Regions from separate parts of the Homo sapiens genome. Here region 1 is linked to region 2. Evidence: fine-mapped expression QTL. A gene starts in region 2. The other region holds a variant in brackets. All regions are shown on one strand. Distances are between the middles of the regions.

What was found. PIP is the estimated chance that this variant, and not a neighbour inherited with it, causes the effect. A credible set is the group of variants that fine-mapping cannot tell apart.
Region 1: its variant is the best candidate, but not a certain one, in a credible set for the expression of XPO7 in whole blood (INTERVAL, PIP 0.78).

What each region holds. Positions count from the first base shown.
Region 1 is chr8:21,993,786-22,009,649 of GRCh38, forward strand. It overlaps XPO7 (exportin 7), which reads left to right. Exons shown (of 28, transcript NM_015024.5): 20 at 578-666; 21 at 1,707-1,814; 22 at 4,970-5,052; 23 at 5,306-5,520; 24 at 5,751-5,889; 25 at 8,327-8,487; 26 at 9,434-9,532; 27 at 10,118-10,245; 28 at 11,210-12,800. The coding sequence ends at 11,303. Among named protein-coding and RNA genes, the nearest start is that of NPM2, 22 kb to the right of the region's middle. The variant G/A (reference allele first, on the strand shown) is at 7,975.
Region 2 is chr8:21,913,520-21,929,383 of GRCh38, forward strand. It overlaps XPO7 (exportin 7), which reads left to right and starts at 6,143. Exons shown (of 28, transcript NM_015024.5): 1 at 6,143-6,269. The coding sequence starts at 6,252. DOK2 (docking protein 2) reads right to left here and starts at 171. Exons shown (of 5, transcript NM_003974.4): 1 at 20-171. The coding sequence starts at 82. RefSeq lists a silencer at 6,060-6,499.

The sequences.
Region 1 (15,864 bases), 80 kb after region 2:
TCTTCCTCCTGGCAGGGCCTGCATCTGACTTCCTTTAGGGTATATATGGCTCTTCTACCTCTTCTTCTTTGGGACTTCTGTTTTTCTTTTTTGCTTTTTTCTGGCTTTTTGAGTTGGTTTCTTTGCCGTGTCTCTCTCTCTCTCTCTCTCTCTCTGTCTCTCTCTCCGCCCCCCACCCTCTCTCCCCCTCCCTCCCCTCCTTTCCTCCCTGGGTGGACTCAAAGCTTTTTCACTTTTTACATGTGATGTATTACTTCAATGTCTTAAAACCTTATCAGCCTCTATTTTTGCTACGAACCAGGAACGTATTTTCTTGGCAAAACAAACTTCCAAAGCTAATTTTCTTGGCATAACAAACTTCCAAAGCTAACAAACTTCAAACTTCCAAAACAAACTTCCACTGCTAGAATGAAAATATGCCATTCTAGCATAGAAGATATTGAATCCGAATATTTGAGAAGGAGTATATGTTGAACTGTGAGAGAAAGAATTTGATGATACATGTGTGGAATCCTCATCAGATTGTTACAGTTTTGTCTTTTCTTCTATTTTAACACATTTTTGCCTTCTACTACAGCGAACTCTAGTTGGCCTAGTAAGAGACCTGAGAGGGATCGCTTTCGCTTTCAATGCCAAGACCAGCTTCATGATGCTCTTTGAATGGATGTATCCTAACTCAAACTAGGAGCACACTACAGCCTGCCTTAACTGGAGTGTGATTGGGTGATAGGGTCCAGAGACGGTGTAGGGGGAAGGGAGGGTAGTGAGGCAGAGAAGATGAAGAGTTAGCCAGAAGGCCTGCATGTGTCCTGGAAGCCACCTTATGACAGACATAAGGTTGTCTGAGATTAGAACATGAATGAAGTAGTCTCCCAGTTTCTCTTTTGGATCTCAAATATAAATGCCTGTGGAACCATATACCACTGTAGAACTGTTGGTTTTGCTATATTTAGAGAGATGTTTCAGTCTGCTGAAAAAAATAAAAAGGCCAGGCACGGTGGCTCACGCCTGTAATCCCAGCACTTAGGGAGGCCGAGGTGGGCGGATCACGAGGTCAGGAGATCGAGACCATCCTGGCTAACACGGTGAAACCCCGTCTGTACTAAAAAATACAAAAAATTAGCCAGGCGTGGTGGCGGGCGCTTGTAGTCCCAGATACTTGGGAGGCTAAGGCAGGAGAATGGCATGAACCCAGGAGGCGGAGCTTGCAGTGAGCCGAGATCGCGCCACTGCACTCCAGCCTGGGCGACAGAGCGAGACTCCATCTCAAAAAAAAATAAATAATAATAATAATAATAATAAACAGCTTTTACAAATTAGGAAGTCTAACTTTACTGACTTCATACCCTTGTGAAGATTATTTCAAATCCAGGTGCCTCTTTAATAGTTATGTAAAGGAAATGAGCTGATCCCATATAATACCATAGAAGTGATGAAAGGACAAATAACAGTATGAAATACATCATGCTCTTCAGAAGAAAGGCCCTATGTAAACTAAAATGTATTATGAGATGCCTTTCACAGGTTAAAGAACACAAAATCACTTTAGTATCTTCTGGTTAGAAAGACTCCAAGATTAGCAAGCAAGAGACAGGAACTTAAAGAACTGTAGTTTGACAAGTTTTTGCTTGGCTAGTGCTGAAAAACTATTTTAAATTCTGTACCTTTCTGGAATCAGAAATCTTTCCTTAGCTTCTCATTTACAGATATCCATCCTATATGCCAATTCTCCAACGGGCAATTGAGCTCTGGTACCATGATCCAGCCTGTACTACACCTGTACTCAAGTTGATGGCTGAATTGGTTCATAATAGGTAAGCAGGAGGCAGAGCTTGCAAGGGCACATCTGCCCTGTTATCTGAGAGAATTTGCTGTATCTAGTGCTTTGGGCAGATTGTGGGAAATAATAAGATTCACTACTGCATTTTAAAATTCGAAAAGTTTTTGTGTTTTTGTTTGTGTGAAAGAATAGTATTCCTAACTACACAAAACCATAGTCAACTGCAGGAAATAAGTCACTTTTTTTGGTTTGTTTGTCTTGTTTTTTTTGAGGCGGTGTCTTGCTGTCTCCCAGGCTGGAGTGCAGTGGCACAGTCTCGGCTCACTGCAAGCTCCATCCCCCTGGGTTCACGCCATTCCCCTGCCTCAGCCTCCGGAGTAGCTGGGACTACAGGCACCCGCCACCACACCCGGCCGATTTTTTGTATTTTTAGTAGAGACAGGGTTTCACCATGTTAGCCAGGATGGTCTCGATCTCCTGACCTCGTGATCCGCGTGCCTCGGCCTCCCAAAGTGCTGGGATTACAGGCGTGAGCCACTGCGCCCATCTAATAAGTCACTTTTAAAAAGAGTCTCCAGTGGGGCATGGTGGCTCATGCCTGTAATCCTAGCTTCTTGGGAGGCCGAAGTGGGCAGATTGCGTGAATGCAGTAGTTCTAGATCAGCCTGGGCAACATGGTGAAACCCACCTCTACAAAAAATTAGCTGGGCATGGTGGCACACAACTGTAGTCCCAGCTACTCAGGAGGCTGAGGTAGGAAGATTGCTTTAGCCTGGGAGGCAGAGGTTGCAGTGAGCCAAGATTATGCCATTACACTCCAGCCTGGGTGACAGAGCAAGACCCTGTCTCAAAAAAGTAAAATAAAAAGAATCTCCAGATGTCTACTCTTAGGAGAAGTAAATTTGGCAACCAAGATTCTGATTTCCTGCCCACAGATAAGAAATTAACATCTGGTAATGGTGCCTTGTCCATCACATTTCATGGTTAGAGACATTGAGAAGGATATGATAGATATTAGAATACCCTTTCTTAAGAAAGGTATTTATTAGAGAGGTTGTGGCAGGATCAATAAAAATTTACTTTTAAAAAGTGAGCAAGATTTTCAAAACAATTTAAGGACAGTGAAAAAGAAAAGTCTAGCACCTTAGCTTTCCTAGAATTTCAGGTATGGGCATTGGTCTCTCATGGCGGTCCTGAGAGAATTAGTAAGGTTTTTTTTCTTTATTTTTATTTTATTTATTTATTTAGTTAGTTATGTTTGATCCGGAGTTTCTCTCTTGTCGCCAGGCTGAAGTACAGTGGCGCAGTCTTGGCTCACTGCAACTTAACGCCTCCTGGGTTCAAGCGATTCTCCTGCCTCAGCCTCCCACATAGCTGGGATTACAGACATGCGCCACCACGCCCGGCTAATTTTCTATTTTTAGTAGAGACGGGGTTTCTCCGTGTTGGTCATGCTGGTCTTGAACTCCCGACTTGAGGTGATCCGCCCACTTCAGCCTCCCAGAGTGTTGGGATTGCAGGCGTGAGCCACCAGGCCTAGCAGAATTAATAAGTTTTAAAACAACCTTATGGAGTGGGTAATATTTAAAGAGGCTATAACCTCCCAGGAGACTTATATTCAAGAGTTACTCATTTATAAAATAGATACTTGAGAGCACTTACTCTTTGCCAAACTTTCCTAGCCACTATGCCAGACAAAATCTCTACCCTCTTTGATGTTACAAATGGTGGGGAAGACACACAATAAAAACAAGTATGGAAGATCTTTCCAGTGATTAAGTGCCATGAAACAAAATAAAACAAGGCAGTAAAATAGAGGGGAATTGAAGGACAGGAGGGTCAGGGAAGACCTCTCAGAGAAGGTAATATTAACTAGGATCTAAATGACAAGAAAGATTCTGGTAGCCCTGCAAAGATAAGGAGTCTTCTAAACAGAAAACATCTGCACGAGTCCTGAGATAGGACAGGCTTGCTGGGACTTGTGGCAGGAGCCTGGTTGGTGGGGGGAGGCTGTGGGAGCAGGTCAGACCAGTGAGCAGAGCCAGATCATCTAGTGCCTTCGCACAGCAGTAGTGAGGAGTGGGCATTTATTCTCATTGCTGTGGGAAGCCGCTAGAGTGTTTTCAGCAAAGGATTAAAATGATCTCATTTAAGTTTTTTAAAGGCTACCATGTGAAGAATGGGACTAAAGGCAGGTAAGAGTAGAAGCAGAGAGAATGTAAGGGAAAGGTGGATTTGGGGTTTATTTTAGAGTTAGATGTTGATGGATTCAGTGTGGTGGGGGGGAGGAAGGAGGAAGGACTCCTGGGCTTTTGAGGTCTTACCAACTTGAATCTAATAAAGCTCATCAAAATGTGGAGCAGACAAAAGAGTCAGGAACTTAAAACCAAGATGGTTACAAATGGCCTTCTCTGTCTGGCTTCTTTTGGACCATTCCAAGTCCCTATGCATCTTTTCTTCATATAAAATGGTAACAATGCTTTGGCCCCTCTCCCTCAGTTGCCACTGAAGCCATAAAGGTCCATGCCAACTAATGGCTGAAGGGCTCTGCATTAGTATCAAGAGGCGACGGGTAGAAAGTATACTTTAATCAAGGCCGGGCACGGTGGCTCACGCCTGTAATCCCAGCACTTTGGGAGGCTGAGGCGGGCGGATCACGAGGTCAGGAGATCGAGACCATCCTGGCTAACATGGTGAAATCCCATCTCCACTAAAAATACAAAAAATTAGCTGGGCGTGGTGGCGGGCACCTGTAGTCCCAGCTACTTGGGAGGCTGAAGCAGGAGAATGGTGTGAACCCGAGAGGCAGAGGTTGCAGTGAGCCGAAATTGCGCCACCGCACTCTAGCCTGGGCGACAGAGTAAGACTCCATCTCAAAAAAAAGAAAGTATACTTTAATCAAATAAAATTGAGAATTTTCAAATAGTAATTTTATCTACTGCTGCTTTTTTTTTCTTATAAATGTTTTTAATTTGAGCAGCAGAATCTGAATCTAGCATGTTGGTCTTCAATATAGAAGCTACTTCATGGTTAAATATCTATAACTTGGTTATTCTCATATTAGGATAGGCAATTGCTTACCTTAATGTAAATGCAGGATCACCCAAGGTACTCAGATGAGAGCCTCAAGTACCCCAGTCTTCCAAGAAAACACCTCTGACTTTTTCTCCTCCTGTGCTCTCTGCTCAGGTCCCAGCGACTCCAGTTTGATGTCTCTTCCCCCAATGGCATCTTACTCTTCCGAGAAACCAGCAAGATGATAACAATGTATGGTAAGTGCTTCAGATAATCATGCCTCTAGAAGTTAATTCCAGCTCAGTCACCACACTGTAAGCAGCATGTGGGTCTCTGGCCAGTCCTGGCAGGAGCCAGGACAGCATTCGTATTGTATGCTAATACATGTGCATTAGAGTGCCACCTGTCACCAGGGGCCTACTGGAATTTGTATGCCTTTGGAGTAGGAAGGCTGATCTAAACGAGCGCTTCTAATGTGGTTGAATAAACATATATGACATGTCTACTCAGGCAATCGCATCCTGACACTAGGAGAGGTCCCAAAGGATCAGGTCTATGCTCTGAAGCTCAAGGGCATCTCCATCTGCTTCTCCATGCTGAAGGCTGCTCTCAGTGGGAGTTACGTCAATTTCGGAGTCTTTCGTCTCTATGGAGACGATGCCCTGGACAATGCTCTGCAGACCTTCATCAAGCTGCTCCTCTCTATTCCTCACAGTGATCTCTTGGTAAGCCTTACGCTGCATTGCCACAATCTTGTTCCTCATCACATTCAGCCTTTTTCACCTGAGACCAAGATTGAACACTGCTCTTGAGAAACTATGTAAGCTAGCTCCTTTTGCTCTAACTAAGTCTTCTGTTTTCCCACCTAAAAGGAGCTAAGCTATTTAAGATCGTCTCCCTGCATGCTGGAGTGCATAGTGCCTAAGCTGATTTTCTTCCTCTTCCTCTCCCACAGGATTACCCCAAGCTCAGCCAGTCTTATTATTCACTACTGGAAGTCCTGACCCAGGACCATATGAACTTTATTGCAAGCCTGGAACCTCACGTCATCATGTATATTCTCTCTTCCATTTCTGAAGGACTTACTGCACTTGGTAAGCACCTGAGGTGGGTGGGTGAGTTGGTGGGTTTGTTTTTTACCACTTAACTAAACAGAAAGAGAGAATCTTGCCCCAGTGTCCAAAAAGATCACCACTGCCTTGGGGGTTTGGCCATAACAATAGAGTATATAATGCACAGCACATGCTTATCCAGCACACACTCACTGATTCCCTTCCTAAGTACAAGGCCCTGTGGAAGCACTGAGGATACGGTAATTAACAGCATATAGTCCCTGTCCTTAAGGGGCTTATCTGGTGGGTAGAACAGACACATGAACAAACAACTGCCTGTTTACCATACTTACCACTTAAACATTACAATAGGGGTGAGTACAAAGTGCTACACAAGCCCTCAAGAATACCTAGACTCTTGGTTGTGAGGAAGTCAGGATCAAGGAAGACTGGCTGGAAGACTTGGCATCAAAGCATAAACCTAAAAGCTGGACAGATGTTACCCTGGTTAGCCAGGGAGGGTTCCTAGCAGCAGAGACAGCAAGCACTTGCACCTGTAGGCAAGAAAGAACCAGGAAATCCAGATGGCTGGCACACTAGTCCAGAGGAGTTAGGAATGAAATGAAGCTTTAGAGATAAGCAGGAGCAAATCTGGAGATCATGAAGGGGGCCCGCCTGTAAGCCGTATTAGGCTGTTTGAATTCTGTCCTGAGGGCCGTGGAAGCTGGGGAAAGGTTTCATGCAGCTAGCTCCATAAGTTTTTTCATCCTAGTCCATATGGTTTCTGTCAACCATTTTGTTTCTAGGCTACCTTCCAACAATTTTTTTTTTTTTTTTTTTGAGACGGAGTCGCTCTGTCGCCCAGGCTGGAGTGCAGTGGCGCGATCTCAGCTCACTGCAACCTCTGCCTCCCGGGTTCATGCCATTCTTCTGCCTCAGCCTCCCAAGTAGCTGGGACTATAGGCGCCCGCCACCATGCCTGGCTAATTTTTTTGTATTTTTAGTAGAGACGGAGTTTCACTGTGTTAGCCAGGATAGTCTCAATCTCCTGACCTCATGATCCGCCTGGCTTGGCCTCCCAAAATACTGGGATTACAGGCATGAGCCACCGTGCCTGGCCCAACAATCTTAGTAGGTATATGTGTTCAGAGAATAAAACACATTTTTATATTAGGCTGAGCAAAACATAAGTAGGAGGATTAAGTCAACTGCCAAATAGTGATGATATGTTGCAAATACACTTTTGGATTGTCAACTGTGGTGAATTATCCATGCCTCTGTGCGACTTTGATACACATTTACTTCTATCAGTCTATCAGGGTGCATAGCCGTATCTAGTACAGTCCAATCAAGGTATCAGCCCTTGCTTTGGAAGACTTTTTTATGTCTTATTGAAAATACAGGGACCTGGCCGGGCGTGGTGGCTCATCCCAGCACTTTGGGAGGCTGAGGCGGGCAGATCACAAGGTCAGGAGCTCGAGACCAGCCTGGCCAATATGGCAAAACCCTGTCTCTGTACAAAAATTAGCTCGGCGTGGTGGTGTGTGCCTGTAGTCCCAGCTACTCTGGAGGCTGAGGCAGAAGAATCACTTGAACCCGGGAAGTAGAAGCTGTGGTGAGCCGAGATCGTGCCACTTCTGCACTCCAGCCCGGGCGACAGAACGAGACTCCGTATCAAAAAAAAAAAAAAGAAAGAAAAAGCAAGTAGAGGGACGTTTGCATAAACTATCAGTCCCGTAGGAATCAGAGACTTGTTTACTCTTTTAAGGGTTCAGCCCCTTTGTCCTTTGGCCTTACCTCATCAGAGTTCTGTCCACAGGTTGTGCTGTACTGTTCCCTTTGTAAAGACGCATAGATGAGTCTGCAGCTCCCCCCAGAGATGCTTTGGAGATAAACAGATAATACAGCATACCGTGTTCTAACAAACCATAAACATTCAGGGGCTACGTCATTCTGGGTTTAATTACATCCCACTGGTAACTCAGAGCATAGGCTCATACCCCAGGCTTCTTGGATTCTAATCACAGCTCCTGCAATTACTAGCAGTTGATCCTTAGGCCGATACATAACCTCTCCTAATTCTGGTTTCCTCATTTGTAAAACAGAAAACCTAATTCCTGAGTTCTT[G/A]AGAGGATAAATTAGAGATAACACCTATAAAGTACTTAGCACAACATCTGGCACAAAAGAAGCACTTGCTGAATCAAACTATTTGTTATTTTGTGTGAGGCAGAAGATGTACGTACATCCACAACACATTGAGCCGATAATTTCAGTATTCTTTATTACCACATACTCACTTTCAAACTTAGAAATTGAGCCCTACTGTACAATGAGGTTAAGAGGTTAACAGGAGTCATCTTGAGCAACCGCCTTGGTTGAATTGGCCACGGTACCCTAATGGATCTCACCCAAAGATAGTCCATATTTGTCCAGGCCACCATCAGCAGCTCTGTCCTACCCCTGCCTTTCTTTCTTGCAGACACCATGGTATGCACAGGCTGCTGCTCCTGCCTGGACCACATTGTGACATACCTCTTCAAGCAGCTGTCACGTAGCACCAAGAAGAGGACCACACCCCTGAACCAGGAGAGCGACCGCTTTCTGCACATCATGCAGCAGCATCCAGAGATGATCCAGCAGGTAAGAAAGTGGAGGCTTAGGAGGCAGTGATGGGGTGTCCGACAGAGGAAGGACCTCTGCAAGACAGGGGAGCCCACACACGATTAACATGACATCTCATCAGGTTCCTGCTGCTGAGATGAAGTCCGTGTCTTAAAGTTGCAGTGGATTTTGAGTTTGCCAAGTAATCACTGGATGTAGAAAACGCTCAGGTTCTGGATTATTCTTCTGAGTGTCACAGTGATCCCTATGCCCTGGACCTGTCTCATGATCACTATCCTCTTTCTGTGAAAATTACTTTGCTCACCCACTGCTATAAATAGAGCAGGAGTTAGCAGCATCCAGCTTTCTAAAGGCTTGTGTTCCTGTTTACAAAACAGGAAGAAGAATGCAAGACAGAAGGAAATAACTGGCCACAGAGAGATCAAACCATATGCTTGCCCTTATTTTATTTGTATGTGCCTTGAAGTAACTTACAGAAATACATGCTAGATGAAAATAGATAAGGAAATGGGATCAGTAATTATTGAGATTTTAGCCAGTCTTACCTTTGTCCACACCGTTCTCTAAAGAAGCAGTGAAATAATTCAGGACTCCATTACATTCACAAGATGTCATAAAGCTGTCAACTCCGAGTACCTGGAAGGGATCATGCAAGGTGGTTTTGCTTACTGTAATTTTGTTTACGTGACCCCATCCCATTCCCCACAACTCAGGGTGACCTGGAAAGATCCATTGGTAAGTGAAGTTCAAACCAATTTTAAGAACAAGAAAGGAAATGAATATCTTAGAAGAAAAGGTAACCTTGAAATAGAAGACTCAGATGAAGCTTCACAAACTATTTGTCTGATTTACCCTATACAGAAAAGGCCTTCAGCCTAATATACTCCTGTATTTGGAATCTGTCGTTTTATCTTGGGTAGCAATACATTAGGTCACTGCCTGAAATTCTCCATTCCATTTTCAGATGCTGTCCACGGTGCTGAACATCATCATCTTTGAAGACTGTAGGAACCAGTGGTCTATGTCCCGACCACTACTTGGCTTGATATTGCTTAATGAAAAGGTGAGAGAGCCAGCTCCCTGGTGCCAACCCAGAAGCAGTGGCAACCACGCACTTGGTATCACCAAGCCCTGGGAGAAATGTGTATAGAAACACCCCACGGTGGTGAAACAGGGAAAATGGGTCATTTACTGAGCAAGTCCCATTTGTGCTTTCAGTATCACATAATCATTTAACTGTTAGAAGTCAGCATGTGTGGTAGCTCACAGACACAGGATAAAGGAGTGTTTCCCCTAGGCAGTAAGAGAAACCTTTCAAGGAAATAATGTACCTGGGTATCAGAGGACCTAAGACCTAAGTTCTAGTTCTAGCTCTGCTATAAACAAGTCTTGAGATTCTGGTAAAAGAAAGGTCTGGATAAGATGACCCTTTTAAAGTGCTTTACAATTTAAAAATTCTTGATATTCTTAGTAGGATGAAGCCATATTATCCCACAAGTGCTTGCCTGAATTTCTTTTTTAAGGGTCCAATTTTAGTAGACATTCCATTCCTCCTTAGAGAAGAACATTCTTCAACCCTGCAGATGACGGAGGGCTAATCTGCCTTCCCCTGCTTCTCTAACCTTCTGTTCCACTCCTTGCCCCACAGTATTTTTCTGACCTAAGAAACAGTATTGTGAACAGCCAGCCACCGGAGAAGCAGCAGGCCATGCACCTGTGTTTTGAGAACCTGATGGAAGGCATCGAGCGAAATCTTCTTACGAAAAACAGAGACAGGTGAGTATAAAGCGTCCTGCCTAGAAATCTCAGACAATTGCTATTTTTCAAATCAACGAAACAGGCAGTTGCTTTAAAGTCTTTGACATCTGTGTTTGGAGGCCATCTAAAGCAATGCAATGCAATAGAAAAGTGAGCCATGTTAAACAGGCAAAATTCATTTTAATAATATATTTTATTTAACCCATTGTATCTAAAATATTGTATCAGTGTGTAATCAGTATTTTAAAATTGTGGGTTTTCACATTCTTTTTGTACTACATTTCCAAAATCCTGTGTACTTTACATTTAACAGCATATCTCAGTTCATACGTTTTCATCAGAAATACTTGATCTGTATTTAGATTTCATAAATTTACAGTTGACAAAGTAGATTCCTGTAATACCCAGATTGTTTCAAACACACCTAGGGACTTTCCAGTAACTGCATTGAGTATCTGGGCTTTGCAATTAACTTTTAAATTTTATTTAATTTTAATTAATTTAAAACAAGGCATTTTAATTTAAAATTAAGATGCAGTTGGGGAGCTGAATGTTAAATTGTATTTAATTTGGATTCATGTTCTCAGTCACACTGGCCATAATTCAGGGGCACGGTAGCCATATGTGGTTAGCAGCCGCCCTATTGGACAGCATAGCACTGCACCACCTGGTCTTGCTGCATTAAGAAATGAGATGGCTTCATTGGCTTACTGCCCTCACGTGTGAGGGCAACTTCCTACTTCTGTCAGTGAGATTTCTTTTGTGCTGCCATGAGCCCAAGGTAGCCCTCAGGGCCCCAGATTTGACCAGATCTCTAAGCCAACTTTTCTCTTAGAGTCTTAAGACTGAAATTAACTGATCTTTGAAACAGAACCCATCAATTCATACATTCTACTTCCCATGCTTTAAAAAAAAAAAAAAAAAAGGCAAATACCTTTCCCCCCCACTCTCCTCCCCCAACCCACATGCATCCTCTCTGCAGGTTCACCCAGAACCTGTCAGCATTCCGTCGAGAAGTCAACGACTCAATGAAGAATTCCACTTATGGCGTGAATAGCAATGACATGATGAGCTGACACCTCCTTGGACTCTACCTGTACAGAGCAGCGTCCCTTTGGTTTGGCCCAGAGGGGCGAACAATTGCAAGGGAGAGGGCCTGGCTGATCCTGGCTCTTTTCTCCAGGGGTGTGGGGAAAATGGCAAAGGTCAACTAGCTGCTTCCCCAGGGAATAGGGGTGTGAGTACACTCACTAGGGGGCAGGGCGCTGCTGGTTCCTGGGGGACTGGGTGGGAAGGGTGGTGGGAGGAGATAAGAGATACAAACTGAGACTCCAGCCTCTCCTCCTGGGGCCACCCAAGTGGGGAGAACCCCTAGTGTCCTGCCACAACCTGCCTTGTATAAACATGTACATTTTTTCATAACATTTTGAACAAGGTTTATATTGACTCAAGTTTAAAAACAAAAAGTGTGACTGAAAAATTTTTACAGAGTCTAGTGCACCAATGCTGATGTGAGGGGTTGTGTATGCGAGTGAAGAAAATGTGTATTCTGGTGGCCTGAAGCTTTACTGGACAAGGATGTGTGAGAGTGCAGAGATATATTTAGTGACACAGTAGAGAGGCAAAAAAAAAGCTAAAATTCCAAATGTATATTTTTTCGTATTGCCCTGTCCTCACCCAGAAATGATCAATTCCTGTTACTGTATTAACCCTTGTTATTAGGAACTCTAAGCCATGCCAGAACACCGTCCCTCCCCTTGGACCGTGTAGATTCTGCCCTGGGTCCCTAGCCCCTTGCAGTGATAAATAACTCCAGCTAAAAGTGTTTGGTGTTCTTATCTCCACCCTCTTTCCTACTTTGCTTACCCTCATCCTCAGACAGATGCCTCTTGCTTTTAAAAGTTGGATTTAACGACGTGTTGTAGGGTTCTTGGTCTGTGTGAAGGCAGAGACCAGAGAGAAGGAAGTGAGCCCACTGCTCTCCTGGGAGCAATGTGGGTGAGTCCACCAGAGGCCCTGCTGTGTGTGGCCAATAAATTTTAGTCTTCCCCAGCCCTCGAGGCAGTGTGTGTGGATGTATGCGTGTGGATATTTATATATGTACCCTGCACTCATGAATGTATGAACTGGAGGAAGTTACTACAGTGGAAGGGTTCTTAATAACAAGGTCTACCTAGCATGAAGTATTTAACATTCTCCCATCCCTTAAAAAATATACATTTTTATAAAATGAAAACCATAATAAATGTTTTGAATATTAAAAAAAATAATAACCTACAGAGGAAAATTAATGGAGACAGCTATTTGCCTTGTACTTTTTCCACAATTGTTGCTGCTAGTTGTACACATCTCTAGTTCAGCTCTTGCCCACGGGACACTCATCAATTAGGTTTTATTTTTATTTCTTTCCTCTACCCCCAGAAACAAGCCTGTTAATTTTTTTTCCTTCTCCTCTGGCGACTGTGTGATGAATCCTTTCTTGCGTGATCAGGTTGCGGATAGACTTGTAAGGGTGTTTGCTGCATACAGTGTAAGCATTGTGACCGCCAATAAACTTCAATGGTTTCTACTGACCTGGCTTCAGCAATCATGTCCAGTGTGCGTCCAAGGACATGTCTCACTCAAAACACATGAAGCTGTGTGAAACATTCTTTAAAAGCCCGTGAATGACAGGGGCCCCTTCACCTGATCAAATTGACTTGTTTCTCATTGCACAGAGTCTGACTCAGTTTCTTTCAAAAGTATAATATGATTGATATATCTCTGTCAACAAAACCAGTCACATGCTATTGTCCATAGCTATAAAGCACAAGCCATTCTACCTCTCTGTTAGCTTTCAGATAATAACATGGCTACTGGCAGACAAGTAGCAATTGAAGAAAGCCCAGTGTTTTAATGTTCTGACATCAGCTTCTCTGATGTGGGCTGAGTTTCATTCATTAGACTATGACAAGTTCAGGGGCAAATGTTATCCCCCTGGAATACGTTGCAGACCTCACAGGCCAGATTTATCAAAAGAGGAACACTTGTTAACAGAGACTACTTCTAAGGCCTGCACTGTGTATTCAGAGTACCTGAGTATGAGGAAATTTGATTGCCAGAAACACAGAAAAGTATTAAGATACAGACAGGTATGTGTACCTTAATGCAGATTTCCATCCCATGACTCTTGGGTGCCAGGGTGCCATTCTTGTCTGCATTATGTAGATGTACCACTACCTTTGCAGTTTCAGCCTTCTGGGAACTGCTATAGCTGCCTCAGTCCTAACTTATTTCAAAGGCAAAAAAAATTCTGATGGCTACAAGGCAAATGGAGTTGATTAATCTTAGCTAAATTCCATCTCTAAGCCTAACATATTAAATGGTGAGTTTTCATTAATATGCATATACTTCTGACACATGCCCCAGAGACCTGGAATTCTGATTCTATAGTTAGGTGACACAAAAATAACTTTCTCATGGATACTTAAAGAGAAGTCCCCTTTCCCCCAACTGCTTTGAGATGCTGATTAATCAGCAAAACCCCAGACCTCTCCCTTCCCTGGGCAAGAAACTCACCAAAGATGGTGGTCTCCTCATTACAGCCCTGAGTGTAGTCCAATCACAAGGAGCCATGATTAAAATCTTCCACAGCTTCATCAGACTTAAACAGTGAAGCTGTTCCCTCCTCTGCCATGGTTAAAATCTTCCACAACTTCATCAGACTTTTTAAACAGTGAAGCTGTTCCCTCCTTTGCTGACAATTCAAAGAGGGGGCACCAAATCACCTTTTGGTCAAAAATGGTCAGTTAGCAATTTCATATGATTCAACCTAGTAAATGTAATAGTTGGTTATCTTTAGATTTTGGTTTCCCCAGAAATCATGAGATTTTATTCAGTCAAAACAAAAGTGTATTTGGGAATTTCTAGGCTTATTCCCCAGGCACTGTGTTCATCAAGTCAAGTGTCTTTAGATAGTGTTTCCTGACACAAACTGTGCCTTACATTGAAAACGTTCTTTACTACAGATTATTAAATTGTGTTTGTATGTGTTTTGTTGGCTCAGCCCAAGTAAGGGTTATCTATTCCCACTAATGTGTAAATCAGACAAAGGAAGAAGGGATTTGGCCCAAGATTGCAATTTTAAGTTTTTAAATTTTAAGAAGTAATGACTTTGGGCAGAAGTGTCCATTTTCTAATGACAAGTGACAACATAAGAAATAAGTTTTTCATTCTCTAAAACATTGGCTTTATTAAGGGACTTTTTCCCCTCCCCCCAACTCCCCACTGGAAAAAATGTTTTAGTACCTTTTGAAATTTCAACTAAGTACATCAACAGACCACTTTCCAAAATATCCATGCTTGTGGGGTAACATGAATTAAATCTAGAAAGCCAGAAAAACTCCCTATATCATATTTGCCACCAGCCAACCCTGTCCAGGCCAACCCTAGCCCAAGATTTCTGGCTAGACCTACAAGCCTAAATTGACATATAATGCTGCCAAAACTCTCGAATGCCAAAGGAAATATAGTTATAGGGACCCTGTAAAAGCCACAAGTTTGTTGATTAGGCCTTGAAAAATGTAAGTGATTATAACTACTTAAAAGTCCTGGTGGTTCTTTAAATATTTTTTAAGTATTTGAAAGGATGAAAATGTGTTCATCAGCCATAATTAGATACTAGGTCATGTGTAAAAAGATTCTTGCCTCTGTAGCTTGTCCTCTGGGTCCATTACATTTATCTTGGGTGTCTTCACCCTGAACTCACTGGTCGCCTGCCACTTGGGTGCTTTTCAGGAAGAGCAGATCAACTAAAGGAATCAGCTGCCAGACAATGGGACGTGAGACTGTCAAGGTAGAGGATGACATCAAGTTTGGAAAATCATTCCCCTTCCTCAGAAAAGCCTTCTGGTTCTCAGGACAGCCTGACTGCTACCCTTTGTCATCTGTTCATCAAATACTTATTCAGCATCTATTATGGGCCAGGTATCTTTTTGATGGTCAGGAATGGAAAAGGAAACTCAAAAGCAGAAAAAGTCACTTGCAAGGCAAATTTGCCTCCATTCTTCTGTTTCATGATCACTCAGTAATACAAACTGACTCTAAAACATAGTAAACAGTACTTACAAAAGCACCATGCACAATTATTTTAATTCTACTTGATAGCCATGAAGACAACTCAGCGCACTTAAGCATACGGCAGCATGCATATGGCCTAAAAGAATGGCAAGTGGGGAATCTCCTTACCCTTGCTATTGAATCACAGAGTTAGCAAGTCAGAGCCTCTGGATTCGAGGTCTGGAAGACAGACTCACAGGATACAAACTAATGGACAGTGGATAAAAACTTATGTAAAGCTCAGAAGGGCCAATAAAGAGTCTAACAGTCACTCCCTACAGCTAGTGAAAGAGTGGGAGAATGTAAGAGCCGTGGTCTCAGTCAGAAAACCCAAACCTCTCCCCAGCTGACTATACTGTGTAATGAAGGTAAAGCATCCTCTCAAGGCCAAATTAATTCAACTGGAAAATGGTTGAGAGTGCCAGTTTAAGATGATGGAAACAAAACGACTTTTAAGTTTAGAAGAATGCAAGCCGTTATTTCATTAGGAAACTAGGTATCTACCCTTTTAACACTTTGCAGTCCAGGGCATGTGTCACA
Region 2 (15,864 bases):
AGCCCAGCCTCACTCCTACCTTTCCAAACGTCTGCTGCTGCTGAAGATACAAGAAGCCTTGTTTCACTGCCCCGTCTCCCATCCTCTGACCATCTCGGAGCCCCAGGCTTCAGCTCTCTCCTTCACTCCTGCCCTTGCCTCTCTCTTCTTAGCCGTGTGTTTCCCTTCTCTGAAGTTCATTTCCTCTCTGCCTAGGGTTTTCTATACTATTCTAGTCTGCTCGATGACGACAGGCTGATAGGCCCTGCGGTTTCTTCTGAGTGTGTGTTCTTTTTTTTCTTTTTTTTTTTTTTTTCTGAGTGAGTTTTATACTCAAGCTTCCTGCATTTCCAGTGAGTTAGAGACAATTTCCAAAAAGCTAAATGCCAGCTCTTCAGTGAGCAACAATTCAGGTACAGAAGTTGGCACAGGGAGGCGCCAGCAAAGAGTGGCTGGCCCACTGGAACAGAGACCCAGAAACCAAACTAGACAGTGAAATCAGTAGTGAAGGCCCCCCCCTCCAAGCTGTACGCAAGTTGGAAGGGACAAACCACTAAGTTACAAATAAGGAAACAGGCTTGGAAAGTCTGAGGGATTTATTCAAGGTCACCAAACCAGAACCCAGGTCTCTCAACGCTTAACAGCTGAATGACACACACGGCACTGCACAGAGAGACACATAAGACAGCTCATGTGGGCCTAACCAGATACCAGTTTCACAAACACACACACACAGAGAGAGAGAGAGAGAGAGAGGCAACCGTTTAACTACATGCGAGCACTCCCTGTCTGCCAACAACACACACTCACACCAACCCTGTAAAGATTCTAGAAAGATGATCATCCCCTCTGGAGAAGGGACTGACTCCCCAAGTACATCTCAACTGTTGGATTTTTGCCTTCTTGCAAGCATTCCTGAGCATTAGAAAGATGCTTAGGTTTCATCTGCAAATTATCTTAAGTTTCAATAGCAATCACTTTCATATACATTTTGAAAATGGTTCAGAGTTACCGAAAGTGCTTCGTAGCTCGCAAAGCTTCTAGGCACACACTTTTCATCAGCCACGCCATCCTTTGACAAAGGCAGGGCAGGTATGAACACACTTATTTGCAACTTGCCTGAGGTCACAGAGGTAGTTGGGGGCAGAGGAAGAAGTAGAGACCAGGGCTCCTGATCTTTAATTCAACATTTTGCAGGGCCCCTAAATGGAATCCAGATCCATGCAAAAAGATCCATTGCTGTGGGGAAATCCAAGCTGCTCAGAGAAGTTTAACTTAAAGCCAGATGGTTTAGAGAAGCAATCTGTATGGAGGCACAGTGCAGAAGGGTTGGAAAAAACTGAGACTCAGACCAACACTCTTGGGGTTAATCCCATAACAGGTGCTTATATAAACAGGCCCATTTCCTCTACAACAGGGGTTCAGTTACCGTGGCAAGGAGCGAGCAGCACCGTGCACAGCTTAGGCCTTCTGCTGTACATGCCATGGACTGGACCAAATAAGCTTGAAAAAAATGAATGTCATGAGCTCTGTGAGGACAAGGATGAGTCACTTCAAACTCACTGCCCTCAGCCGTGATGCCTGGGTTTGAAGAGGTTGATCCAAAGCTCAAGGGAGAACCAAGCATACTGTTTTGGGAAAAGCACACCTTGGGAAGTGGTTAGGGGTATGGAAATGGGATGTGACCTAATCTTCCTCTTTAGTCCCTAAGGAGAGTCAACTCTGCCTGGGAGCTGCATGGTCTTTGGTGCAGGGAGTGAGAAGAGGAGGGCTTTATGGCCATCTTAGGGGCTGCCAGAGCAGTGCCTTCCAAACTGTAACATGTAGATCTTGTTCAAAGTAGACTCCAATAAAGTAGGTCTGGAATGAGCCCTGAGATGCTGCCGGTGGTGGGTGGGTCAAAGCACACTGAGTAGCAAGGTGACAGAGGATGTCCCCTGCTAACCTGATCGCCTTCCCTGAAGGCAAAATGGACACATTCCACTCAGAACCACAGGGGGGCACCCAAGTTTACCAGATTACTTGAAAGTTGTTTAAACCCGGAGGCCTGAACCCCAGGCAATCCAGACACTCCCTTGTCATCCCTTGCTTATGGAAGCTGGAGGAGTTCTCCGGTAGCCGTTGACTGCAGAAGATAGGGCAGCAGAGTATATACCAAGAGCAACACCCTTGCAGTCCTTCTAGGCCCCTTCAACTGTCCCTAGCAGGATTTGTGGCGACCCTGATGTAGAAGCACTAACCCCAGTACCTTCTGCCTAGCCATGGGGAAACCCTGTAAACAGGAGCCCAGAGACATTGCTCCAAGACACAGCAGAAGCGCACAGAATGAGAAGCCCTTAGGGTCCACAGGCACCAATGATGTGTAGAAAAAGCACTGTAAAGGAGTTGAGGGTGCCTCTTGGCTTGTCTTTGTTTTTACGGGAAAGGAAAAGGCACTCCAAACCCCACCTGTGGCTCATTCTAAGCCACTGGGATCCTGTCCCTTACAACAGTTTCTCTCAGCAGGAGTCAGGAACCACAGCTCCAAGAAATTTTCATTACTATTCTGCTGCAGTGATTAGCAACCCAATCCTAACATAAGAGGGCTGGGACCTTGTCTTTGGGGCAACAAAGGAAGGAGGAGAGGAGACTGTGTCTGACTCCTTGGGCCGGCTTGGGGATTAGGTAACCCTCAAATGATGTGCAGGTAGGGAAGCTAGCTAAGGGGTAGTTCTGGGCACACAACAGGTAAGTACGTATAGGATAGGCAGAGAACTGATGTGGGCCTGAGACGGGTGAAGGACTGAGCGAAAGAATTAGTGAGCGTGTATTCTGAAGGACCCCATCCCTGCCCCTTCCACCCCCAGTGGTCCCTGACTGTGGGGTGTGGGAGGGGGACAATGCCAGTCTCTTGAGCTTCATTTGTAGCCCCCCACCCTTTCTCCATTAAGTCTATCACTTTTCTCAGTACTAAGGAAAGAGAGAACCCAGTTCTAGAAACCCGCTGAGAGGAAGGGCCTATAACATAACATAACATAACATAACATAACATAACATAACATAACATAACATAACATGTTACCTAACAGTGACATAATATTTAGAATGCTTTATGTCTTCATATGAAACCCACATGCACCCTAGAATGAGACATAAAGAAGTTAATACATTCAACAGTTTTTTAAATTTATTTTTATTTATTTTTTGAGATGGAGTCTTACTCTGTTGTCCAGGCTGTAATGCAGTGGCACGATCTCGGCTCACTGCAACCTCCGTCTCCTGGGTTCCAGCCATTCTCCTGCCTCAGCCTCCTGAGTAGCTGGGATTACAGGCGCACACCACCATGCCTGGCTAATTTTTTGTATTTTTAGTATAGACGGGGTTTCACCATGTTGGCCAGGCTGCTCTCAAACTCCTGACCTCAGGTGATCCACCCCCCTCAGCCTCCCAAAGTGCTGGGATTAAAGGTGTGAGCCACCATGCCCCGCCTCAACAATTATTTACTGAGCATCTACTCTGTGCAGAGGTACTAGGGATACAACATAGACAGAATCCTTGTTTATACTATGTCTGCTTTTAGTTGGAGGGACTGATAATGAAAGAGTAATAATATGTAGTTTTGGACAGTGATCAATGCTGTGATAGTGATAGGCACAGGGGACAACTTTCAAGAGGGTGGTGAGAAAAGGCTCTCTGAGAGGTGACAAGTGAGCTGAAAAGTCCATGAGGAGAGTGAGCCAGCCATTTCACGATCTGAAGGGAAACCAATCCAGGCAGAAGTTACTGCAAGTGCAAAGGCCCTGAGGCAGGAGATCCTGGCTTTGCAGAACTGCAAGGCCAGAATGACCACAGAGCATTGAGCCAGAGGGGGCATGGTAGAGTGAGGTCAGCTCATACGACCTCTTGAGCCACAGCAAAGATTCGAATTCTAAATGCAACATGAGGCCACTTAAGGATTTTAAGTAGGAGTGTAAATTATCTGAATTATGATTTTAAAGGAATGTTCTGGCCAGGCGCAGTGGCTCACACCTGTAATCCCAGCACTTTGGGAGGCAGAGGCGAGTGGATAACCTGAGGTCAGCAGTTCCAGACCAGCTTGGCCAACGTGGTGAAACCCTGTCTCTACTAAAAATCCAAAAATTAGCCAGGTATGGTGGTGGGCGCATGTAATCTCAGCTACTTGGGAGGCTAAGGCAAGAGAATCGCTTGAACCAGGGAGGCGGAGGTTGCAGTGAGCAGAGATGGCGCCATTGCACTCCAGCCTCGGCAACAGAGCAAGACTCTGTCTCAAAAAATAACAAATAAATAAAATAATGTTCTGCAGCGTCCAGCTATATGGAAAATGGGTTATCAAGGGGCAAGACAGGAAGCAGGGAAACTAATTAGGAATCTATTACCAGAGCACAGGAGAAAGGTAATGGTGGCTTGGACCAAGGTGTTAACAGTGGAGATGGATGGAGAAGTGGTCATATTGGGTATATATTAGATATAGATTGAACAGGACTTGCAGGTGACTTGCATGTTGGGGACTGATAAGACTTGAAGAACCAACTCCTGAGTGTTTATTAGGAGCAACTGGATGAATGGTGGTACCATTTACTGAGGAAGGGAAGACACAGGGAGAAACACGGGGAGGTTGGGGTGCGGGGGTGGGGGAAGGGAGGGTGGACAGAAATTTGGGCCTGGCCCACTGTGAAACTGTTACCTCTATTCAGTCCAGTAGGGAATCCAAAGAATTTCCATTGCAATTGTGACTCTGAGAATATTTCATTGCCCGATGCCAGGTTCAGAAAGCCACTGACCCCATCACCCCGCCTCTTTATACGCTCGGAGCTAATGATTGGACGCTGGGAGGTTTTGGGGAAAAACAAAAACCCAACATCTGAAAAGGTCTATGCTCGCTAGAAGTTAACAGTCAAAAGCTCTGCCACTTAAATCTTCTGCCTCTTAAATCTTCTCTGAGTCAGCCTAATTGGCAGAGCCTAATTTGCATACAGAACCCTAGCTGCAAGGAAGTTTGGGTAATGTAGTTTCCAGGTGCCCTACCTCTGCAAACCAGGAAGACCTACTAGGAGGACGGAAGTCGAAATGAATGCTGAGCACCGGTCCACTACATCCACCAAGGGTGTGTAATTCACTACCACCATCATTTGCATATGATGGTAGTCCCCTGTAAATACAAACTTCAAACAATCAGTGCTCTCAGAATCCAGCTATGATCTAACCTGGGGGCCTTAAAAGGAAGCCACAGTGGAATCCAATGGAAAACAGGAACCGGCATTATCTAACAGATAATTCCTAGTGAGGAAGACTGGAATTGGCCTCAGCATGCAGGGGCTGACCTTATCTGACCCAGAGAGATGGCTTTCCCACTCATACCTCCACAAGACCGAGCCTAGGGGTCCTAACCACCAGCCCCGCTGCCTCTTCCAGCATCTGACCCTCTCGGGAGGCAGTCTAGAGTATTGGCAACGAGGACAATGTCTTTGGGAAGCCAGAACTGTGCCTTCGTATGTTTTGATCATCACCACCATTCGGTGGTTATTTCCATGAATGTTTATCAAGGACGAAAGGACAGAAATGAAAAACACGAGATCAACCACTGGGGTTGCTGGTGAAATCCAGACCAGAGAGCGATGGCCCTGGTCCAGAAAGCTAGACAGACACAAGCACAGAATCGGCCCCCGTTGAGTAGAGGGCATTGGAAAGTAAGGAATCTCGCAGGCAGCCTAGGTGGGGTGTGGGGGGTCCCCGTAGCTGCAGGGTGGGGTGGGGGTGGGGGTGGGAGACGTCCAGGGGCGAGTCAAGGGGGAAGACGGTTGGGAAGAGAGGAAGCCACTGGGTGCAGGGGTCCCGGGGCGGCGACAGACCTCGGCCCCCATCCAGGAGCCCTCACCACGCAAACGAGCAGAAGGCAGCGCCAACTCCCACTCCAGCGCCCGCCTGCCGGAGCGAGCGCGGCCCCTTTAAAAACCATGTAAACAAAGCTTTGTTCCCCCAGCTGCCCCTCCTTCGCGCTCCCCCGGCCCGCTCCTTCCTCCCACCCGGCGTCTCCGGGCCGCTGACGTTGCCCGCGCCTTTACGCCGTCCCAGCGGTGCTGCGCATTCTCCAACCACGGCCCGGGCCGCCGGGGCCTGCGCAGCTGAGCGGCGCTACGCCACGAGCGCAGCGCGACGAGTCCCCAGCGCGCAGGCGCAGCGGCGACGGCGTCGGCGGCGGCGGCGGCAGCGGCTCCGGCCGAGGTGCGCGCTGGGGGGGAGGGGGGGCCGGAGAGGAGCATGAATGGAGCAAAATGGCGGATCATGTGCAGGTGAGAGGAGCCGCGGGGGGGAGGGGGCGACCACGAAGAGCGGCGAGTGGAGTCGGGGGTGCACACGGCCCACAGGGCGCCAGCCGGCTCGGGACTCGGCAGGCCCGCGCCGCCGCCACTCGGGGCTCTGGAGCCGCCGCCCGTCCCGGAGCCCCGGGGCCTTTCCCGCCTCCCGGGCCGGGGGCCTTCTCCGTCCCCTCCCACCCGGTCCCACACCTCGCGCGCGGGGCTGCAGGGACAGGAACGGGCATCCCGGCGCGCGCAGCCCACAACGTTCGTCAGTCACTGTCTTCGTCCCCGGGGGAGGCCTCCGTCAAGTCCTCGGGCCCCCCCGCCCGCCCCCCGGTGAAGCGAGGGGGACCCCCTTGCTGACTTTACTGAGGGGGACGCCCCCATGACGCCCGCCATCCCTCAGCAGATAACAAAAAGGAAACCTCGCGCTGATAAACCTCGCTCTCCGGAGTCTTTCCCGCCGCCTTCCTCTCACGCCCCGGAATACGAGAGACCCCCCAGCAACCCCGGCCTCCTTCCCCCTCCCACGGATGCGCCCTTCCCTCCGACACTCCAAATCGTACAGCCCGGAGGGCCGAGCTCCCCGGTCTTCCAAAATGGGTGCTCAGGCCTCGGCCCGCCTCCCCTCGCGTCCCCCTAGCCACAGTGAAGGAGTTGAGCGCCCACACCTCCTATGAAACACGGGGTGGAGGGGGGTGTGTCTGAAATGAGAGATGCAGGGTTGGGTGCAGACGTTGCTCGGGAGGGTCTTGATCCGGCTCAAGAGCTGCTCCTAGCGTGCTGTGGGGCCAGGCCACTCTCCTCAAAGACAGGCACAGGCCCTAGAAAGGGACAGCCCATACCAAACCCAGTAGCAGATGGAGGACTGCAGGGTTTAATTTCTTGCAAACTAGATAAAGTTTTTCCTGTCTGTGCCAGAGATCTGATATTTTTATGACAGTTATTGATGCACATCCATTGTGGGGAACCTTCCAATTTTCTAGGTAACCAAGTGCACAGGTTTTGTGTTGTGGCAAGGAAAGATTAGAGGGCAAGAAGTGTCGCCTTTATATTCTGTGGCATCATTCCTCAAGTAAGAAGAATGATCTCATTCTTAATACGTCTACAAGAATCTGGAGTGGTGTGACTTCTGCCCCTTTCTTTGGAGAGAAGGGACTAAATAAAAGACTTAATTTTCAGGCCAGAGATCAGTAAAGTAGATCTTCGGAGTGTGCGGGACAAGTTGTCAGGACAGAATTATAGCAAGAAACGTAATCACAGGTGGAAAACCACGGGATTTGTGTTTCAAAGCCAGTACCTTGGCTTAATTCAGAAGTGACAGTAAAAGTTGATACAAGGAGATGATAATAATGATAATAATAATAGTATAGCACCTTGCGTTTTATAGCAGTCATTTCTAAGAAGCATGAAATATTTTATGTGATTTTTAAAAATTCTTGGATCTTACAAGACTCAGGCAGGAATTACTTCTGTCATTTAAAGGAACAAAAACCAAAGCACAAGAATGATAATGAGATTTGGTTAAGGTAAGTCTAAGTGTCCCAAAGTCTTTGGAGTTTGGGTCCAGTGCGCTTCCTTACTGGGGGTTGGGGGGATGTCTATGAGCATTCTAGAACAGGCTTTGAATAGATAGCCTTTGTGAACCATGCTTCGGAATGCAGAGGGAGTCAGTACTTTTATGAATATACATCGTGCTATTTGCTGTTTCCCGTAAAGAAATATCTCTTAATGTGATCTCCCACATTTTCGAAGCATAAAGGTTGTCATTCCTGTGAAAGTCAGGATGCATCAAAGCAATCTTCACAGCATTTGTCGCTCCAACGAAGGTCTGTCTTATTTTTAGTAAGATGTTGTTCTCCCACTCACCACTCAAAAATCTACGGAAGTAAGAATTTATTAACTTTTCAAAACAAAGGGGAGCATGTTGATCAGTGTTTTATTGGTACCCTTTATTTACTTTTAAGAGCTGCAATCTGTTGGTCTAAATTAGTGCTTAGTGGTCTTCATATCAACGGGGTAAGTTTGTGAGTGAATTTTTTTCCCTTTAGAGAGAATGGGACATACTGCTTTTCTTTGTCAGACCACTAAGTGTTAATAGTATTGGGCACTCACAGATGTTAAGGTGGTACTTTATTGTGGCAGAAAACCTTCTTATGAAAAAGATACACGCTTCCCTAGGTATAATGAGTAAATAAAGGATTCATTAAAGACAGTCTGCAATGCATTGAGGGGAGGGTGGCGGGGATATTTTTCTTATAACACTAATCAAACGTGAAGTTTATAAAGGTGTCTGCTACAGATTCATGACTGATTATTGGAGAGTTGCATTTGTTGAACTAAATAGTCGAGTCATTATGTTATCTAGTGCTTTTCTGAACCACCAGGGTGAGCAGTTTTTTCATAATTGAGGCTGAGTGTCATATGATTCTCGGGTTCTCTCAGGCTGATGTCTTGGATATCTCTCTTCTAAGGATATGTATTTTATGGACGATTTTAAGTGCTATAAAACTTTAGTAATGGGAAAATTATAATATTTGGATTGCCCTTTAGCTCTGTTGATGTTACAGGCAAGTGTCTGTAGAAGTGTGCCCTTAAGCAGCTCCTCGATGTGATGGGTTTCTTACTCTTGGTCTTAGATAACCTTATCTAACTTTCACCCTGAAGGCAGGGTGGTTACAAAGCTTTGCGTGGGAGAAAAAAATCAAACTTACTTATGTGTGTTTAATTATGTTTAGTTGCCCTTCCTTTCATGTTTTTTTTAACATATCTAAAGCTGGTAAGTTATCGCAAAGAGATGAAGACAACGCTCAGTGAACAGTGGTGATGAAGAAGATTAAGAAGGATCAGATGTTAGTTTTAATAGTGCTAGCTGGTGTTCAGGAGCTCGAGAGGAAAAGGAAGGAAAGAATATGATTTATATATCGAATATGCTATTTAATATGAATTATATTAGTTTTACCATAAATAATGGAAATGAAGACTGATTCCAGGATTTTGCTGGAATTACTACGTTGTTGTGTTGGGTCTTATTATTTACTGGGCTTTGCATTATGACTGTACTAGGAGAATGTACTATTTGCAAAGTAGTCATAGTTTGTTTTAAATTCCAGGCACAGTAATTAAATATTGACTACCAGTGTAACTCCAGGGAGTTGTGAAGAATCATTACAACTTGTCAGGTTAAATTTTAGCAGGGTGCAAAAAGTCGGCCTGATTATAGCAAAAGTGATGGTTGTTTTTTCAGCTTTTAACAATATGCAAGGAAATGATAAGTGCTATGGGTAGTCCATTTTGAAAAGGGAGTTCCGTACAACTTTTGAGAATTTTAAATGGAAAAAACATAACTTTTCTAACTTTTTTCCAGTTCGACTAATACCAGAATGCTTAGTGTGTGCAAGGCCCTTTCTGTGCTGGGCACTTCAGAGGATTCAGAATGAGAAAGACACTGGAGCCAGACTGCTGAAATATCCAATTCTGATGCTCTTTTGGCAGGCTTCAGGAGCACACACGTAGATACAAGAAAGAATACATTGATTTCAAAACATGCTACATCTGTGTTGGGTGATAAGCAATAACTATATCCCATCACCCACTCCCACCCTGATTATACCTCTTTCGTGGGTTTATACAAATAATATGTGTGTATTTTATTTCATTATTTTACTCCTATTCAACACCACACTGGAAATGTCTGTATTTAAAACATATATATCTATATATTTACTTGATTACTCTGACTTTAGTATATTTCCTGAGAAGCCTTGAGAAAAATTAAGGGATGTATATATACGTGTGGGATCATTCAAACACTTAACACAGAAAAAACAAAATACAGTACAGTGATGGAAGAATCTCTAATTTAGATGAAGGTATAGAAAGAAGTATCAGGAAGATCCCTGTTCTATATCTTACAGAGAAATTAGCTTCCATTTGACCCAGAAATTGATGTTCATAACCACCAGCTGTATTTTCTTTTTTCTTGGTTGGGTTTTGAAAGCAATATTGTACCACAGCCTTTCGAGGTGGGAAAGTTGCCAGTTTAAACCAATAAGCTAATGTCTCTCTGTAGGTACAACTACTGAGGCTACTTTGCCCACTTCAGTATGTGCAAGGAAGATAGTGTTTTGAAACTGCATCTTTTTAAAACACCTAACATTATCTCACATTTTCTCAGGGTTAGGAATCTGGGAGTGGCTTAACTAGATGGTTTTGGTTCAGGGTCTCATTTGCAGTCAAACTCTCAGCTGGGGCTCCGGGCTGCAGTCAATCTCAGGGCTTGACTTGAGGATAGAGAATTTTCTTTAGGTTTACACACAGCGGGCCTGGTCAGGCCTCAGTTCCTCACTGGCTGTTGTCTGGAGGCTGCAGTTCTTTACCAATGGGCCTCTCCTAGTGCATCATTTTTAAGGACTTCATTAAATTCTGTAATGATATATGCTGTGTATAAGTGACCCATCTTTGTTATTTTTTTCAAAAACTTTTTATTGAAATATATACCTGCAGACAGGTACAGAAATCATATGTGTTCAGCTTGATGAATTTTCACAAAGTGAATACTCCTTACTAACCAGCACCCAAATCAAGTCAGTATTATCGGTGCCCCAGAAGTCCCCTGATACCATCTCAACAGCTACCTGTAGCCCCCCTCCCCCCCCCACCCCACTAACTACTATCCTGTCATTTTATTTTTAAATCTGCTTTTAGAACTCAAGCTGAGTAACCTGAGAGTTTTAGCTTCAAAGCCAGGGGGAGAAGCAGTACAGAGCAGTGATTATACAGCTTTGGGGGGATTTATTTCATAATATGATGGAAGCTATGTTACTGCTCTCTGGTGGGGGTGGGGAGAGTGTGCCTACACAAAATTTTACCCACAATTTTAGGCCATTCATGAACCTTGATAACTAGAGTTTAAATATATGTTTCTTTTTAGATGAAAATGCTCACAACATTTTATTGAGAAACTGATTTACAAGTATTTCTCTTTTGACTTATTTGAAAAGCAAGTTCAGGACCACGATAAATGTTCCTGGAGAGTTACATGCAAGCTGAATTTTTAAATATTGAAATAAATTCTTGAGGATGATTAATGGTGACCACTTAAGCATCTACTAATATCCCATTTTTGTTACTGTGCAGACACATAGAAGGAAATACAAGATGTGATATTCTACTTCCAGGGCCTTACATTGAATTGAGCATCACAACAAGCCTGGTCATTGAGTTGTGAATTTGTAGTGAGACTGGTTTTGTCGACATGTCCCTGAATGGGGGGCAGTCACTACCCCGTTATCTTTTCCCCCATTCCAATACATGTCTGGAATACATTCATTCCTAACATTTATAGTGACTCATTACTAGGAAATTCTCAATGGAATGGGATTGGTACCCAGGAGGCATATCAAAATCTTGGGGGAGGGAGAGAGTTGTAAAAAACCTAGATCCTAAGTATTTCTGATATTTGCTTCAATGGCTGTTCACCCCTTCGCACATGTGTGCATGCACACAAGGACACACACACACTCCTACTGCCATAAAATGGGAAGGATGTATTTAAGAGAAGGCAGAATTGGAAACTTCATGCTAGCATTAATTGATATCATTTAATGCTCACCGCAGCAATGTAACATCGGTATAGAGATAATAGTAATAGAATTTTCCTTGAAATAAGCTGATTAAAAGACCTGGTATCCCTGGAAGACTGGAGAACTCGCTGTTGGAAGATTTAGATGATGTTCATGGTGGTGGTTATTGTAAGACTTACTGGAGTGTGACTTGGTTGGTCATAGGGAAAGGGGGATACCAGTATTAACTGAGTGTCTGTTATATGCCAGGCACCATGCTAAGCCTTTTATAGTGTTATGCCATTTAATTGGGAAACTCGTTTGGTCTCTGAGCCTGGATTAAGTGATCTGTGAAGTCCCTTGTACTTCAAGCATTCTGGATGGGATTTCCAGTTGTCATCCTTGTATTCTCTCCCCAATATAGCACCGTGTTCTCAATTCATATGTACATGTTTGTAAAATTCCTTAAAATATTTATGCTCAAACCAACATTTCCATTTTATCTATCTTAAATATATCTTCCTCTTCTTTACGCCTAATTTCTTAAACTCCCAGAGTTTTTTTCTGTAAGATCTAGTCATCTGTAGCACTTCTCACAAATTGAGCTCTCTTATGCCCCAAACAGTAACGAAAGAGGTCTCTTAGTTGGACAATAAGCAGTGAAAGATATTTCTTATGGGACAAGAAATTAACATTATTAGTCAAATGTTGATGCCGGTAGGCTGAGAAATGATTCTCACTTAAAAGCCCCTGGGTTTTAAACCTCTCTTAGAAAAACATTAGTTAGATGAAAAAAAAAATCAAAATATTTTCCTCTGGAAAACAATGTTCCTCTGAAAACAAGCAGATTATTAAAATATCCCTTGTACTACTTCAGGAAATTGTAATCTTATAACTGTAGTGGCCTTTTAGCTTTTAAATATATGAACTTGAGTTGGACACATGCTGATCTCATTGGTACTTTGCATGATAAGAAATTATGATATTTACAATGTGCAGTCTCAGAAAGAACTGAGAGTTTTGCTAGACATTTGCCCTAAAGTTTGAGTCAATTTATGGTTTAAAGGGGTGTATTTAAGGCTAGAAAAGGGAAATGAAGGGTTTTCTTAGGATTTTTTCCAATTCTATTTAAAATTGTTTGCAAAGTTTTGAAAGCATATGTCATGAGTTTGGCAAAAATTATTTCAAAGCTTGTTTTTTTTTTAACCTCATTCACCTCTGCTAACTCCTGAACTTCAGTGCTTTACTTCTGTCTTCCAAAAAGACGTTGTCTAAAATTAGTCATGAAATTTAACTTAACTGTAAGAACTTGAAACATAAAGTTTGCTCTGAAAAAGATCTGGGAAACCTGATGTATATTTCACATATCAATACATCTGTTGATGTATTGATAAAATCTATACATCTCAGTTGAAAAAAAATCTAAATTTTGCCCAATATATAGCCACAAATTATTTAGAATGTAATGTTCGTGTTAGTAGGTGATATTTTTGTCTTCAGCTTGTCATTGACCCATCTAAGGATCCCTGCGAGGTCTTGTCAAAAACTAGCCTGGGGCATACCCAAGAATTTTAAAGATTAAATAAAACTTACTGGAAAATGTGACCTTGTTTTCCTTAGTCTTAATATTTTGAACTGATAATGTTCCAGAACTGAGCAACTTTCTTCAGGCCTTCATAAAACCAAATTAAATTGTTTTTAGGTGAATTGAACCTGAGCAACAGGGAGTATTTAAGGACAGGCCAGGCAGGGGCACACATGCTTGTAGTCCCAGCTACTGGGGGGGAGGCTAAGCTGGGAGGATCACTTGGGTACAGGAGTTCAAGTCCAGCCTGGGTAACATAGCAAGACCCCAAGTCTTTTAAAAAAAATTAATTAATTAATTTAAATTAAATTCAAATAAAATAAGGACATTATCCCACAGGTGTTACAAATGAAAATTTGTTGTAATGTAAAGGATTATTTACTAGTTCTTGGAATTCTACAGTTAGCCACACTCCATACAGGGAGAGCAGAATGTTGTGAGCAAGAAGTTTTAATTTCACAGAATTCCTAAAACCTGTCCATTCAGAGCTGTTTGGTTTAGGTTACTGTTAATGTACCCTAGAGGTTCCCAAAGGCACATTTCGTGTTAACATTGATAGCATTGATAGGGTGAGACTTAAAAAAAACCAACCTTTTTTTTTTTTTTTTTTTTTCTTAAGATGGAGTTTTGCTCTTGTTGCCCAGGCTGGAGTGCAGTGGCGCAATCTCGGCTCACGGCAACCTCTGCCTCCCGGGTTCAAGCAGTTCTCCTGCCTCAGCCTCCCAAGTAGCTGGGATTACAGGCATGCACCACCACGCCCAGCTAATTTTGTATTTTTAGTAGAGACGGAGTTTCTCCATGTTGGTCCGACTGGTCTTGAGCTCCCGACCTCAGGTGATCCTCCTGTCTCGGCCTCCCAAAGTGCTGGGATTACAGGCGTGAGCCACCGCACCTGGCTGACCCAACTTCTTATCTATTCCTCCCATACCCGTCCCCTCAAATGTAAACAGCACTCACAAAAGTGGATATTTGGTTCATAGAGATTACTGTTGTGTAAATCTGTTGCCAGTGGAATAAAATCTTTCCTTTTTACTAAAATTTTATTCGTACAGTAAACTGCATCCATTTAAAGTGTACAAATTGACAGATACATACACCTGTGACTCCGGGATCAAAATATGGAACATTTCCTCTTTGCAGTCTGTTCCTCCCTCAGCTCTCAGACCCACACAACCCTGTTCTGCTTTCTGTCACTATAAATTAGTTTGCATTTTCTGGAATTTTATATAATGGACTTACTGTATACTCTTGTTTTCTGACTTCTTTCACTCAGCATAGTAACTCTGAGATTGATTCTCATTGTTGCATAGTAGGAGTGCTTGGTTACTTTTCATTGTTGCCAAGTATTCCGTTGTATGAATATATCACATTGGATGTATCCATTCACTCTTTGGGAGACATTCAGGTTGTTCCCAGTTTTTAGTCATTGTGAATAAAGATGCTGTGAATATTCATATACCAGTCTCTGTATGGATGTACATTTTTATTTCTCTTGAGTACCTGGGAGTAGGATGGCTGAGTCTTATTGTGTATGTTTACATTTTTAAAGAAACTGTCAATTTTCCAAAATGACTGTACCTCGAGTTATTTCATAACTTCGCCAACATTTAGTATTGTCATTCTTTTTGCCTTTCTAGTAGGATCTTGTGTTTTTAGTTTGTACTTCTTTGATGACTAACATGTTGAGTATCTCTTCATGTGCTTACTGACATTTGTATATCTCAGGCTTGCAAACCAGGCTGGTGTTTTGGCCTGACAGCCTGTTTTTGTATGGCCTGCACCCTGAGAATAGCTTTTACATTTTAAATGGTTGAAAACATCTAAAAGAATAATACTCCATGTTGCATGATAATTATATGAAATTCTGATTTCACTGTTCGTAAATAAGTTTTATTGGAACATGCATTCATCTATGTATCCCGTATGGCTATTTTTGTACCACAGTGGCAGAGCTGAATAGTCTTGACAGACATTTTGGCCTAAAATATTTACTTTCTGGCCCTTTAGAGAAAACATTTGCAGACTTCTGGTAGATCTTCTTTGGTGATGTGTCCCTTCAAATCTATTGCCTGACTTTTGGGTGGAGGACGTACCAGCCCAGTATGTTTCTAACCCAAGCCCAGTTTGACAGGAACTGCATCAAGTTCTTCAGTTGTACCAACCACATTTCAAGTGCTCAGTAGCCACATGAGGCTAATAGCTACCATATTGCATAGTGCAGATATAAAATATTTCCACTCTCATGGAAATTTCTATTGGACAGTGCTACTCTAGAATAAACTTGCCGCTGAACCAAAGGGATTAGAAGCAAAGTGGAACATAGGTTATAGGATTGCTTTCCTGGATGTCGATAAAAATAAGCTAGATCCTCGTCCTCTCAGATGTGTGTGAATGCAAATGGATATATTTTGTTATCCATGTATGTCCTGTTCTCTTG